4 linked regions of the Homo sapiens genome follow. The protein of the gene in region 2 interacts with the protein of the main gene of each other region in a pairwise test. Each region holds a gene or a part of one and is shown on either strand. Other genes may lie near its edges.

The links. The genes of interacting proteins can lie anywhere in the genome.
Region 1: the proteins of SFI1 (region 2) and GCSH interact in a two-hybrid assay, tested with the Homo sapiens proteins (one large-scale study listed by BioGRID).
Region 3: the proteins of SFI1 (region 2) and FAM131C interact in a two-hybrid assay, tested with the Homo sapiens proteins (one large-scale study listed by BioGRID).
Region 4: the proteins of SFI1 (region 2) and LPXN interact in a two-hybrid assay, tested with the Homo sapiens proteins (one large-scale study listed by BioGRID).

The regions. Positions count from the first base shown.
Region 1 is NC_000016.10:81,086,396-81,089,895, reverse strand, and holds part of GCSH (glycine cleavage system H protein, mitochondrial precursor), read left to right. Parts: intron 1-2,231; coding exon 2,232-2,295; intron 2,296-3,500. UniProt on the Homo sapiens protein: The glycine cleavage system catalyzes the degradation of glycine. The H protein (GCSH) shuttles the methylamine group of glycine from the P protein (GLDC) to the T protein (GCST).
Region 2 is NC_000022.11:31,503,036-31,506,535, forward strand, and holds part of SFI1 (protein SFI1 homolog), read left to right. Parts: intron 1-3,500. UniProt on the Homo sapiens protein: Plays a role in the dynamic structure of centrosome-associated contractile fibers via its interaction with CETN2.
Region 3 is NC_000001.11:16,067,152-16,070,651, reverse strand, and holds part of FAM131C (protein FAM131C), read left to right. Parts: intron 1-3,500.
Region 4 is NC_000011.10:58,555,357-58,558,856, reverse strand, and holds part of LPXN (leupaxin), read left to right. Parts: intron 1-3,500. UniProt on the Homo sapiens protein: Transcriptional coactivator for androgen receptor (AR) and serum response factor (SRF). Contributes to the regulation of cell adhesion, spreading and cell migration and acts as a negative regulator in integrin-mediated cell adhesion events.

The sequences.
Region 1 (3,500 bases), on a different chromosome or scaffold from region 2:
TTGTGGGTCCAGTGATACACACGTGACCAGGAGGACGGGAAGAAAGAAAACCTCAATAGGCACAGATGACACAAAGGGAAGGCTTTTATTCAGCCCATCTTTTCTCTGTAAATTCCCCTCAATTCCATATGGCGATACTGTTTAAGAGAAAATGAGAAGCCAAATCCTAGCGTGTTCAGTGATTTTCAACTGGATGTATGTATTGGGTGAGGCGGGGAAGGGGGGATGTTAACTGATGGGAATGCACTCGTGTCACTTAATGATGGAGCTATGTTCTGATAACTGCCTCCTCGGGGATTGCGTCCTTCTGTGAGCCTCCTAGGGTGCCCTTACACACACCTAGATGGTACAGCCTATTACACACCTTGGCTGTATGGTACAGCCTTTGCTCCTGGGCTACAAACCTGTACAGCATGTTACTGTACTGAATACTGTAGGCAATCGTAACACACTTGGCCTATCAAAACACAGAAAAGGTACAGTAAAAATATGGCATAGGTTGAGCATCTCTAATCCCTGAAATACTCCAAAAATCTGAAACTTTTTGAGCACCAACGTGACTCTTAAAGAAAATGCTCATTGGAGCGTTTTGGATTCCAGAATCTTGGATGAGGAGTGCTCATGTATTAAGTATAATGCGAGTATTCCAAAATCTGAAATCCAAAACACTTCTGCTCCCAAGCATTTTGGACAAGTGATACTAACTATATTATAATTTCATGGGACCACTGTCATATATGTGGTCTGTTGTTGACCAAAATGCCATTAGGCGGCACGTGACTGTACAAAATTCCTCAGACATGTAAGATGCTTGTGTGTTGATAATCACAATTATATCTTCCTTGGCATCTCTGTATACCTACTATGAGGCCCAGTGTTGGATAGTTTTTGAGATGTTGTGTAAGATGTCGTCCTTACCTCCTAGAGTTTATTTGTGAGGGGAATTACCTACATGAGAATGACTTGCAAACATTACATGATGGCATCGGAACGGTGGGGTTGTAATTCACTTACCTGATGGAGAGACCACTTCTTTCTGGAGTCAGGGACTTCAGGGAGTACAAGGTGTGAGGACTATGATTTGTAGAATCAGTGAGCAGGATTTCAGCAAATGCTTTGGGGGCAATGGTGTACATAAAACTACAGAGGTGGAAGAACACCAAATATGTTCATGCCCAGAAGAGCTAGCAGTGTTTGCCGGGCGCAGTGGCTCACACCTGTAATCCTAGCACTTTGGAAGGCCGAGGCAAGTTGATTATCTGAGGTCAAAAGTTCAAGACCAGCTGGCCAACATGGTGAAACTGCATCTCTAGCAAAAAATTTTAAAAAATTAACCAGGCATGGTGGTGGGCACCTGTAATCCCAGCTACTTGGGAGGCTGAGGCAGGAGAATCGCTTGAACCTGGGAGGCAGAGGTTGCAGTGAGCTGAGATCAGGCCACTGCACTCCAGCCTGGGCAACAAGAGAGAAACTCTGTCTCAAAACCAAATAAAACAAAGAGCTAGCAGTCTTGTGTGGGGCAGGAGGCTTGTGTTAGGTTGCTAAAGCCTGTGAGCCAGATCTGGCTGGCGGCTGGTCTCTTGCAGCTCCTGAGTTGAGAATAGTTTTTTAAAATCATTTTATTTTACTTAGTTTTGGAGAACAGGGTCTTGCTATATTGCCAAGGCAGGTCTCAAACTCCTGGGCTCAAGCTATCCTCCCACCTCTGCCTCCCTAAGAGCTGGGATTACAGGCATGAGCCACCGCACCCAGCCATTTATTTTTATTCTTGACATGGAGTCTTGCTCTGTCGCCAAGGCTGGAGTATACAGGTGCAATCTCAACTCACTGCAACCTCTGCCTCCCAGATTTAAGTGATTCTCCTGCCTCAGCCTCCTGAGTAGCTGGGATTGCAAGTGCCTGCCACCACACCCAGCTAATTTTTGTATTTTTATTAGAGACTGGGTTTCACCATGTCAACCAGGCTGGTCTCGAACTTCTGACCTCATGTGATAACACCCACTTTGGGCCTTTCAAAGTGCTGGGATTACAGGCGTGAACTACCACACCTGACTGAGAGTAGTTTTTACATGTTTAAAGGATTTTAAGGAAAACTCAAGAATGTAGCCCCTCCAGTATAAAATATATACTAAATCTTCATTATAGGGGATTCAGTGTTTGGCTTATTCTGTTTACTGGAGGGTTTAGTTATAACTTCTTAGAGATTTTTGGTTTTGTCTTGTTTTATTTAGGAAGCGTTGGGAGATGTTGTTTATTGTAGTCTCCCTGAAGTTGGGACAAAATTGAACAAACAAGGTGAGTGTTCTTAGGATCTTAGAATGATCCATGCCATGAATTTTGTTTACATTGAATAGTAATTTGTTTGTACCCTGGATTAATTAGAGTGCTTTTTTTTTTTTGGAGACAGTCTTGCTTTGTCACCCAGGCTGGAGTGCAGTGGCACCATCTCGGCCCACTGTAACCTCTGCCTCCTGGGTTAAAGCGATTCTTGTGTCTCAGGCACGTGCCACCACGCCCAGCTAATTTTTGTATTGTAGAGACAGAGTTTCCCCATGTTGGCAAGGCTGGTCTCGAACTCCTGACCTCGAGTGATCCGCCCGCCTTGGCCTCCCAAAATGCTGAGATTACAAGTGTGAGCCACCGTGCCCAGCCAATTAGAGTGCTTTTGACCCAAGTATTAGGTTGGTGTAAAAGTAATTGCTACTCAGAGGCTGAGACAGGAGAATTGCTGGAACTTGGGAGGCGGAGGTTGCAGTGAGCCGAGATCCCATCACTGTACTCCAGCCTGGGCAACAGAGCAAGACTCCGTTTTAAAAAAAAGAGAGAAAAAAAGTCTATTAATATCGATATGTTAGATAATATCCTTAAACTAATGAATACCCTTTTAAGACATTCTGCTAAAGGTAGTTTTTTAACTTGATGTAAAATCTACATACAGTGAAATGCATGGACCAGAAGTGTACAATTCAGTGAGTTTTAACAAATGTATACACTTAAATAAACCTTCCTAGTCAAATAGATGACCTCTTCTCTCGTTTCTACACCATAGGTTTATTTTGCCTATTCTTTATATGAAAGGAATCACACAGTGTGTGTTACGTTTGGCTGCTTTTGGGATTTACCAAGCTTCTTGAATCTGTAGATTGAATTTTTTTTCGATTAAATTTGGAGACTTCTTATTTTAGTCATGATTTCTTTCTCTTCCCACTTCATTCCTTTTTCCTTCTCTGATTTGAGACATGTTCGTCATATCACTTGATATTGTCCTATAGGGTCCCTAAGACTGTTAACTTTTCAGCCTTTTTTAAACTGTTCTTTTTTTTTTCTTCTTATTTTTTTGAGACGGAGTCTTGCTCTGTTGCCCAGGCTGGAATGCGATGGTGCGACATTGGCTCACTGCAACCTCCGCCTCCTAGGTTCAAGCAATTCTCCTTTTTCAGCCACCCAAGTAGCTGGGAGTACAGGCATGCACAACCACACCAGGCTAATTTTTTAAATTA
Region 2 (3,500 bases):
CAAAGCGAGACTCTGTCTCAAAAAAAAAAAAAAAAAAAGGTGTAACTGAGAAATTAGTTGGAAGCTCCTTGTGTCTGAGCAGGACTTGTGAGTTCAGGGGCTTCACTTTAGGGTAATCTAGGGACAAGTCTGCTTTTTCATTGATGGAGAGTAAGGCACAGGTCTCAGAATCTGGAGATGTGTTAGTTTTTATTGTTTTCTGAGAAGACTTTTCCAGTCTCCTGCCTGAGAGGTACCATCTAGCTACCAGAATTTTGGAAGCGGGACAGCAGAAGTGGCGTGAATACCCTGTCTGACAGGGTTGGAATTCTGTGTGGTCCACTTTCCTTTGGTATCCACTCTGAAGTTTTTCATTTCCTCAAACCTGTTAGGCCACTTCATTTTCCTTTCTTGTAAAACCTGTGGAAATCCCTCATGTCCTATAATCGCTTCTGTCATCTCTTTAACCTTATGGTTCGTTCCTTTGTATTCTTTGCTGCCACCTTAGAAGGTCAATCTACATGTTTAACTGGGAGTCAACACCTAATAATTTTTGTTTTTCTTGGACTGTTTTTTTTTTTTTTTTTTTTGAGATGGAGTTTCGCTCTTGTTGCCCAGGCTGGAGTACAGTGGTGCGATCTTGGCTCACTGCAACCTCCGCCTCCTAGGTACAAGTGATTCTCTTGTTTCAGCCTCCCAAGTAGCTCGGATTACAGGCATTCGCCACCATGCCAATTTTTTTTTTTTTTTTTTAAGTAGAGACAGGGTTTCACCACGTTAGTCAGGCTGGTGGCGACCTCCTGACCTCAGGTGATCCACCTGCTTCGGCCTCCCAAAGTTCTAGGATTACAGGCATGCGCCACTGTCCTCGGCCATGTTTTGTATTTGATTATCATTATATTCATTATATTCCAACTTATAAGCAAGTTTATATTCATACATGTCCTTATTGAAAGCAAACCTGTGTCCTAGTTTTTCCAGTATATGTGTATTTTATCTGTGAGGTTACAGACGTTGTTTTAGAGGCTGGAGATAGAATGGAGAGAAGATCAGATGTGATTCCTGTTTCCATGGAATTTATATTTTAGTGGGGAAGGCAGACATGTACAAATAGGTAGAATGCTGGTATAGAGTATATAACAGAAGGGAGTCCTTGACCATGAAGGACATTCCACAGGATCATTATGACAGAAACCCAAGGCGGTGACACATTGATTATAGCAGTATTTCACGAAAAATCACTATTTGAATACTCCATTTGATTTATTTATAGAAATAATCACTTATGATGACCTCTGTTACTTGGAGTGTAGTATCAGAAAAACTAGGACATCGGTTTGATGTAAGTAAGGATTATTCGTTTTGTATGGATAAACTGGCTAATTCCTTGTCTGATTGTCATTGAAATATGTGACCTTGATTATAAGGGTGACTTCATTCTTTTAGAATGAAACAACTTGTAAATGCATCACCGTTACTCAACACAGGATGTGTTCACCCTGTTAGCTTGCCTCCACCATTTACTTAAATCTTACTCTTCTGTCTTACTACTTGTATTAGTTTCCTAGGGCTGCTGTAACAAAGTACCACAAACCGGGTGGCTTAAAACTAATAGAAGTTTATTCTTTCACAGTTTTAGAGGCTAGAAGTCTGAAATCAAGGTGTCATCCTCTCCCTGAAGGCTCAGGGGAGAATCTGTTCCATGCCTTTCTCTTAGCTTCTGATGTTGCCAGCAATCTTTGGCAATTCTTGTAGATACATCACTCTAGTCTCTGCCTCTGTCATCACATTGCATTCTCCTCTTTATGTGTATCTGTCCCTGTATCTCTTCTCTTTTAAGAAAGACACAAATCGTGTTGGATTATGGGCCCACCCTACTCCCATGTGACCTCATCTTAACTTACATCTTAATTACTTCTGCAAAGACCCTGTTTTCAGATAATGTCACATTCGCAGGTAGCAGGGGTGAGGATTTCAGCAAATCTTTTTTGGGGAACACAATTCAACCCACAACACTGCTATTCCTGGCACTAAAAGAAAAATAGTAATAATAATAATAATTTAAAAAACTATGCCATAATTTATTCAGTTCCTAATGAATATTTTTGATACAAATTATCACCAATTGAAAATGAAAAATGGGCTCAGGCACAGTGGCTCACGCCTATAATCCCAGCACTTTGGGAGGCCGAGGTGGGCAGATCATTTAAGGTCAGGAGTTTAAGACCAGCCTGGCCAACATGGGGAAACCCCATCTCTACTAAAAATACAAAAAGTAGCCAGTTGTGGTGGTGCATTCCTGTAATCCCAGCTACATGGGAGGCTGAAGCAGGAGAATCGGTTGAACCCGGGAAGTGGAGGTTGCAGTGAGCCTAGATTGCACCACTGCATTCCAGCCTGGGCAACAGAGCGAGACTGTCTCGGAAAAAAAGAAAAAGAAAAAGAAAAAATGAAAACTAGGCAAGGTGCAGTGGTGCCTGTCTGTAGTCCCAGCTACTTGGGAGGCCGAGACAGGAGAATTGCTTGAGGCCAGGAGTTTGAGATTACAGTCAGCTATGAGAACACCACTGCACTCCAGCCTGAGTGACAGAGTGAGACCCTATCTCTACACACAAAAAAAGGCACTTTGGGAGGCTAAGGTGGATAGATCAGTTGAGCTCAGGAGTTTGAGACCAGCCTGAGCAATATAGCAAGACCCTGTCTCTACAAATAATAAAAAATAAGCTGAGCATGGTGGCACATACCTGTGGTCCCAGCTACTTGGGAGGCTATGGTGAGAGGACTGCTTGAGCATGGGAGGTTGAGGCTGCAGTGAGCCGTGATGGTGCCGCAGTACTTCAGCCTGGATAATAACATGAGACCCTGGGTGACAGCGTGAGAAAGAAAAAAGGCCAGGCATGGTGGCTCATGCCTGTAATCGTAACACTTTGGGAGGCTGAGGTGGGAGGATCACCTGAGCCTGAGGAGGTCGAGGCTGCAGTGAGCTGCGATTGCACTGCTGCATTCCAGCCTGGGTGACAGAGGGAAATCCTGTCTTTTTTTTTTTTTTTTCTGAGACAGAGTCTTGCTCTGTTGCCCAGGCTGCAGTGCAGTGGTGTGATCTCGGTTCACTGCAACCTGCCTCACGGGTTCAAGTGATTCTTCTGCCTCAGCCTCCTGAGTAGCTGGGATTGCAGGTGCCCACCACCATGCCTGGCTCATTTTTGTACTTTTAGTAGAGATGGAGTTTTCCCATGTTGGGCAGGCTGGTCTTGAACTCCTGACTTCAGGTGATCTGCCCGACTCAGCCTCCCAAAGGGCTGGGATTACAGGCGTGAGCCACTGTGCCTGGCCAGAAATTCTGTCTTTAAAAAAAAGAAAAGAAAGAAAATGAAAACTACACACAGTAACACTGATAACCATAAAAATTAATCTGAGGAAAAATAAGAAATCTTGGCCTCTACTGGTGTTTTTGTGAAGGGAAGTTGAAGGTGCTGAAGCATCTAGACATGAAGAAAGAACCAGGCACAACTTCTGAGTGT
Region 3 (3,500 bases), on a different chromosome or scaffold from region 2:
ATTTTAATATTGTATATATTATAATAGAGACAGGCTCTCACTATGTTGCCCAGGCTTATCTCGAACTCCTGGCCTCAAGCCACCCTCCCACCTCGGCCTCCCAAAGTGCTGGGATTACAGGTGTGAGCCACTGCACCCGGCCTTTAATTTTTATTACCTGTCTGTGCAGACAGCTAATGTGGGCCTTCATGGCTGGAAGGGGAAACCTACAGAGGTTTTAAGCCACATCCTGCCTCATGGGAAAGGCAGCGGGTGGCAGGCACTCGAGGTGCTGAGGACATTGAGAAAGTGATTGGGACCAGATTAAGGCAACAAATGCTGTTTCCAGGAGCTATTTTGCATTCATTATCTATTTTTAAGCTACCGTTTGTTGAGCGCTTATCCTGAGCTAGGCTGAGCCTTTGCTCTCCTGACCTAGTTAGTTCTCATTCAACCCTGTGACAAGGGATGTGGGGCTCAGAGAACGGGAGGGTCTTCCCTCAGGTCACATGGCCAGGGCATGGAGAGGCAGGACTTGAATCCAGGTCAATGTGACCCCAGAGCCTGAGTGTGGAAACCCCGTCCTTTGCTTTCTTACGTCCCTATAGAGAGAGAGGTGCTATGGCTCACGCTTATAATCTAAATACTGGGAGGCTGAGGCGGGAGGATCGCTTGAGCCCACGAGTTCAAGACCAGCCTGTGCAACATAGTGAGACCCCATCTCTACAAAAAACTTTTTAAAAATTACCTAGCTGTGGTGGTGTGTGCTGGTAGTCCCAGCTATTTGGGAGGCTGAGGCAGGAGGATGGCTTGAACCCAGGAGGTCGAAGCTGCAGTGAGCTGTGATTACTCCACCGCACTCTAGCCTGGGCAACAAAGACCCTGTCTCAAAAACAAAAAGAGGTGCTAAGTATATGGCCAGTGCTTAGAAAAACAACCTCTTGGAACACTTGAATGGTCCCTATTTGTTGGGGGCTCTGCAACCAATGGCAGTCTGTATGGAACAGAGAGGAATATTTGCCCCCCTTCTCTCCAGTTCCAGGGGCTCAGTACCCGCTCCATGCCCTTGGTGCCATAACCACTCTGCCTCCTCACTCATGCCCCAGCCCTCTCCTCCAGGCCAACTGATCAGCCTCCTGGCCCCACCTTGGGGGTATCCAATGCACTGGGGGCCGGTGGGGTCGGGGGTGAGAGTAGAAATTAGAGACCGAGAATTTTCTTCTGGAAACTCAGACATCTGATCATGTCTGGGTGAAGGCACAAGCTCTAAGGGGGCCGACCAGAGCCACCCATAGTTTCCAAGTCCTGAGCAGTCCTACACCAGGCACTGAGGAAAGGGTAGGTGGGACCTTGCCCTTCGGGAGCTCACAGTCTGATGAGAGAGGTACAGCTTTGCCCGTGGAGTAGCCTAATGGGGGAGGCAGTATGCATGAACCCTTGGAAGGATGCCCCGAGGACCCTGTCTGGAGATCAGCACTGTTTAGTGGTTGGGGCACAAGCTTTGGAGTTTCACAAGGGCCGAAGTGTGACCCTCATCTCTGCTGCTTATTAGCAGGTGACCTTGCATAAGTGATTTATCCTCTCTGAGCCTCCGTTTCCCTATCTGTAAAATGGGCATAACATGTACTTTGCAGGATTGTTGTGTGGGTTAAATGAGAGATCATGGGTGAACAGGCCTAGGACAGACAGTACCTGACACAGTACTGTCACACCTGCTCAGTAAACAGTGGCGGCAAATCACTGCAGGCCAGACTTTGGCCATTAGGACCACAGGTGAGGTACCTAATCCAGCAGAGGCCAATCTGGGCAGGTTGCTTGTGGGAGGTGAGGCTGGAGCAAGATGTTCCCAGAGGCCAGGTCACAGGATGGGAGGGAGCCTGGGGAAGGAAGTGGGGAGGAGCTGGGGTGTGTGGAAGTCCTGGGGAGGAGCCCATTTTCTCTCTCCATCCTTGCACGGGGAGAGAAAGGGACCCCCTTGGATAGCTCTGAGCTGAGCCAACCCACAGATGAGCTATTGTCACGGCTCAGGTGACCTGTAAACAAATGTCCTGGGGAGGAGGGGACACTCAGTCCACTCGAGGCCTGGCCTCTGCCAAGCTCTGTGGCCTGCTCCCCTGGCAGTGACTCAACAGGCAGAGCGGCCAAGGACTCACCCTCAAGGGCTTCCCTCTGCGGAGCCTCCAGAGCCAGCTCCAGCCCTGGGGACAGGACCAGAGGAGTGGCTGACCAAGATGTGTCCCATTGTCCAGAGAGAGACACTGAGGGGAGAGGGGTGGAGCGGCTGCTGCTTACGGACTGCTTGCTGTGGCAGGTGCTTCCTCCTTGCTGCAGCCCTTTCTGGGCTGGTATTATTTCACAGATGAGAATCCAAGGCTCACAGGGGCTAAGTCCCATGCCCACCCCCTGCAGCGGAAAGTGAGAAGCGGGGACTTAAACCCAGCTCAGGGACCGTAAGAGGAATGCCTTGGCCGCTTACGTTCTCTTCAGAGCCAAGGGCAGAGCCCGGCACATCACAGCTGGGCAGTACACACCCGGGCAATGGTTGGCTAGAGGGGCCGCATCGGCTGCAGGTGCCCTGAGAAGCTGAGCAGAGAAGCCCGAGGCTGGCCGGGGAGGAGCATGAGGGGACGCTTTGACCCCAGGCTGCTGCTCAGTTTCTGTGTGGTTTTGAGAGGATATTTACCCTCCCTGGGCTGCTGCAGAGTCAAACACGGTCCCTCTCTGCCCTCTGGGGTGCAGAGCCCTGGGAGGCACTCTTGGGGTAGATGGCAACCATGGTGACTAATGGGTTGGGACACGGAGCCCCAGAGAACAGCTTAAAGGAGTTGGAAGGCCCTGAAGCAGACGAGAGGAGCCTGAGGGGTTGTGCTGCAGACTCACCCAAGGATCAAGTAGAGAAGACCAACCAGTATGGGAACTGCAACAAGAGGGGTTTAGGCTAGACATCAGGAGGAACTGTCTGGGAGGTTAGACTCTAAAGCAGATTGAAGAGGAGCTGGCATAGGAAGGCAGGAAGCACCCTCAAGATGCAGAGGAGAAGCTCTGGTTGAAGACAGAGGGATGGAGGAGACATCTGGTTGACACCCTCTCCTTGAAGAATCAAGATGGCCCTCTCCAGGTTGCCATGGCAGCCAGAAGCCTGTCACTCTTGTGGACAGAGGAGGTGGGGGAGGGAGCAGGTCTGAGAAGGGAATTCTGACCTTGAGGTCAGGAGACTAGGGTGTGGACTGAAAGAAAGGGGGTGTCCTTCTGGGAGAGGGAGCCACAGGAGCAGGTGCTAGCGGTCCCTTCGGGCTGCCTCCCAGCCCCCACCCCACATGACACTCTGTGTTTTTCCAGTTGCCAGTGGTGACGTGACCACCAGTCCCAGCTGGGCGAAGAACAGCCTGTGATTTCACCCTGGGCTGGTTCATTACCTGACGTCCCCATGGCAACCAGCCTGTGACATCATGGGGCCAAAGTCCTCAGGGGGAGCAGGCAGCTTTGGTGGAGGCACCTGAACCCCAACTGAGGTGGGGAGC
Region 4 (3,500 bases), on a different chromosome or scaffold from region 2:
AAATTGTAAAATATATTCTTCATTTTTCTATTATCTTTACATTTAAAAATATTGATATCTATCTTTAATTTGTCTCAAATTTATTCATGTATTTGGTGTGTTGGGGATCCATATTTATTTTGTACCAAATAGGTTGTTATTCTTTGAGTCGAATAGTCTGTTTTGGATGATTTGAAATGCCCCATTGCTCATATAGGAAGTTCTTTTAGGTGCAGGAGCCTGTTTCTGGGTTTTCTAATCTACTCCTTTGACCTATTTGTTTTTCTTTTTCTTCTTCCTTTCCTTTCTTCTCTTTTTTTTTTTTTTTTTTTTTTTTGACAGGGTCTCATTCTGCTTCTGTTGTCCAGGCTGGCATGCAGTAGTGTGATCACAACTCACTGCAGCCTTGGCCTCCTGGGCCAAAGTGATCCTCCTGCCCCAGCCTCCTGAGTAGCTGAGACGACAGATGTGTGCTACCACATCTGGCTGATTTTTAAATTTTTGTAGAGACAGGGTCTCCCTATGTTGCCCAGGCTGGTCTTAAACTCCTGGGTTCAAGCAGTCCTCCTGCCTCAGCTTCCCAAAGGGATCACAGGTATGAACGATCGCACCCAGCCCTATCTTCTTTACCAACATCATACAAATTTAATTATTGTTACTCTATAAGACACCACATCTATCAAGACAAATCTTCCCTCCTGTTTTTTTTTTTCTTTACAACTTTTAATTTTTATAGAGACCAGGTCTCTCTCATGTTTCCCAGGTTGTTCGCAACTCCAGGTCCCAAGTGATTCTCTTACCTGGACCTCCCAAAGTGCTGGGACCACAGGTGTGAGACACCACACACCCCTCCTATTTTGTTTTTCCAAAATTGTCTTGAGTGTTCTATCCCATAAATGTTAACATCATCTTATTAATTAGCTTGAATAATTATATCAGAATTTTTATTTGAATTACATTGAATTTACAGTTTAGGGGAAACTGACATAATATTTATCTTCATTTATATAGGCTTTCTTTTCTAAAAATAAATTTTATTGTGCATATTTAAGGTGTACAATATTATGTTATGGGTTATGAATAGTTAGTAAAATGGTTACTATAGTGAGGCAAATTAACATATTTATTATCTCACACAGTTACACATTTTTGTTTGTTTGTTTTTGTGGCAAGAACAGCCAAAATTTACTCTTGCAACAGGAATCCTAAATACGATACAATTTCATTACCGATAGTTCTTATGTTGTACATTAGATCTCTAGGCTTGTTCATCTTACATATCTGCTACTTCATATTCTCTAACCTACATGTCCCCATTTTCACCCCCTTTCCTGCCTCTCATCACCAGTGTATCTACATATTTGACCTTTTTAAATGACAAAAGAGGATTCCACCTATAAGTGAGATCATGCAATATGTTTCTTTCTTATTTAACTTGGTATAATGTCCTTCCAATTCATCAATGCTATGACAAATAGCAGAATCTCCTTTTTTTAAGGCTCACTAATATTCTGTTGTGTATGTGTGCATATTTCACAATTTCTTTATTCCATTGGTGTCCATCCATTGATGGACACTTAAGTTGTTTCCACCTCTTGGCTATTGTGAATTGTGAATATTGTGGCAATGAACATACGAGTGCAGAGATCTTTACGAAGTGGTAATTCCATTTATTTTGTGTATGCCCAGAAGAAGGATTCCTGTGTCATGTGGTATTTCTATTTTTAATTCCTTTAGAAACCTGCATATTATTTTCTGTAATGGCTGTAACAATCTACATTCCCACCAACAGTGTATAAAGGTTCTTTTTTCTCCATACCCTGGCCAACATTTGCCATCTTTTGACTTTTTGAGAATAGCCATCTGTTTGTGAGTGGTATCTCATAATAGTTTGATTTGCATTTCCCTGATGATTAATGGTGTTGAATACCTTTTCATATACCTTTTGGCCATTTTTATTTCTTCTTTGGAAAAATATCTATTCAGGTCCTTTGCTCATTGTTTAATTGGATATGTGGATCTTCCTTTATGTCTGCCAATGGTTTTTCTTCATAGAATTCTTACACATTTCTTGTTAAATATATTATTTGATATTTTACAACTTTTGTTAGAATTGTGAACAGGTTCTTTTTTTCGCATTGGATTTTCAAACTGCTTATTGATGATCAATAAGAAAGAGACTGTTTCATTTCATTCTTGTATCTAATCACCACCCTGATCTTTTTTATTCATTCCAATGGTTGTTCAGTCATTTATCTTACATTTTCCTGGGAAATTATTATACCATCTATTTTAAAAGAAAGACTGAGGATGTGCTGCCTTTTTTTCAAATATATAATTCTCTTATTTTACTTTTAAATGTGTTTGATAATGTATTCTAGAATAATGTTGAAGATTGCCAGTGATAATAGGATCTATGTCCAACTTATCTCTTAATTAGATATCTGCTTAATAATTATGAGGCTTGCTATATATTTCTTATGGAAACATTTTATCAGTTTATAGACTTTTTCTTATTTTTCTTGATATTCAACAACAGGAATGGTTGTTAAATGTCTTCCACGGCTTTTTCAGCACATATCATTGTGTTTATAAAGCTTTTCTCCTATTTGTTAATGAATTATATTAATCTTTTTCCTAATTTTGAATTTCAAACTATTTTTGGATAACCAGTATAAACACCACCTAGCCATGACTTGTTAAAATTTTTTATGTTTTTTAAAAAAAACACATTTCAACTGATTTTATTTAACCTTCTCTCTTCACACATGCACATCGTTTTTTCTTTGATTTTAAAAAGTTTCTGTGCTATTTATAGAATGAATTAGGTAATGTTCCATATTTTTCTATGTATTTGGGAATTTTATACAATGATCCCCCAAAAACTGTCAGTTTTTGTTTTATTTCTTGTTTTCTGTTTCACTAATTTATGCATTTATTCCTTCTGTTGAATTATTTTAGATTTTTCTGAGACTCTTGACTTGGAAGTTTTATTTATTTCTGATCTTTCTCACTTTTTAATATCACACTTAAGTCTATTTATATATTTTCTTCTCAATAACATTTAGCTTTCAACTCCCAAAGGCGTGTGTGTGTGTGTGTGTGTGTGCATGTGTGTGAGTGTGTGTGTGTGTGTGTTTTCATTGCTATTTCTAACTGGTTTGAAAATTCAGTTTAATTTTTTTATCCCAAGAATTATTTAGAAGTGCTTTGTTTTTTCTTAAGTGGATAGTTTTTATGATTAATTTGTACTTCTATTCACTCCAATCTAAGAATATGGTCTATATGATGTACTTTTAAAAATTTATTGAGCTTTACTTTGTATCTTCATACATAGTTAATTTTACTAATGTTTATGCAGCTACTTGAATAGAATCTGTATTCTGTTTATTGGGTCCAAAGTTTTATTTATTTATAATTTACTTACAATTATATGAATATGAAATCATCATCATATATATTATCTAAACTTTCTGCACCAGAGATTTGCAAACTTGTTCTGTAAAGAGGCAGATAGTAAG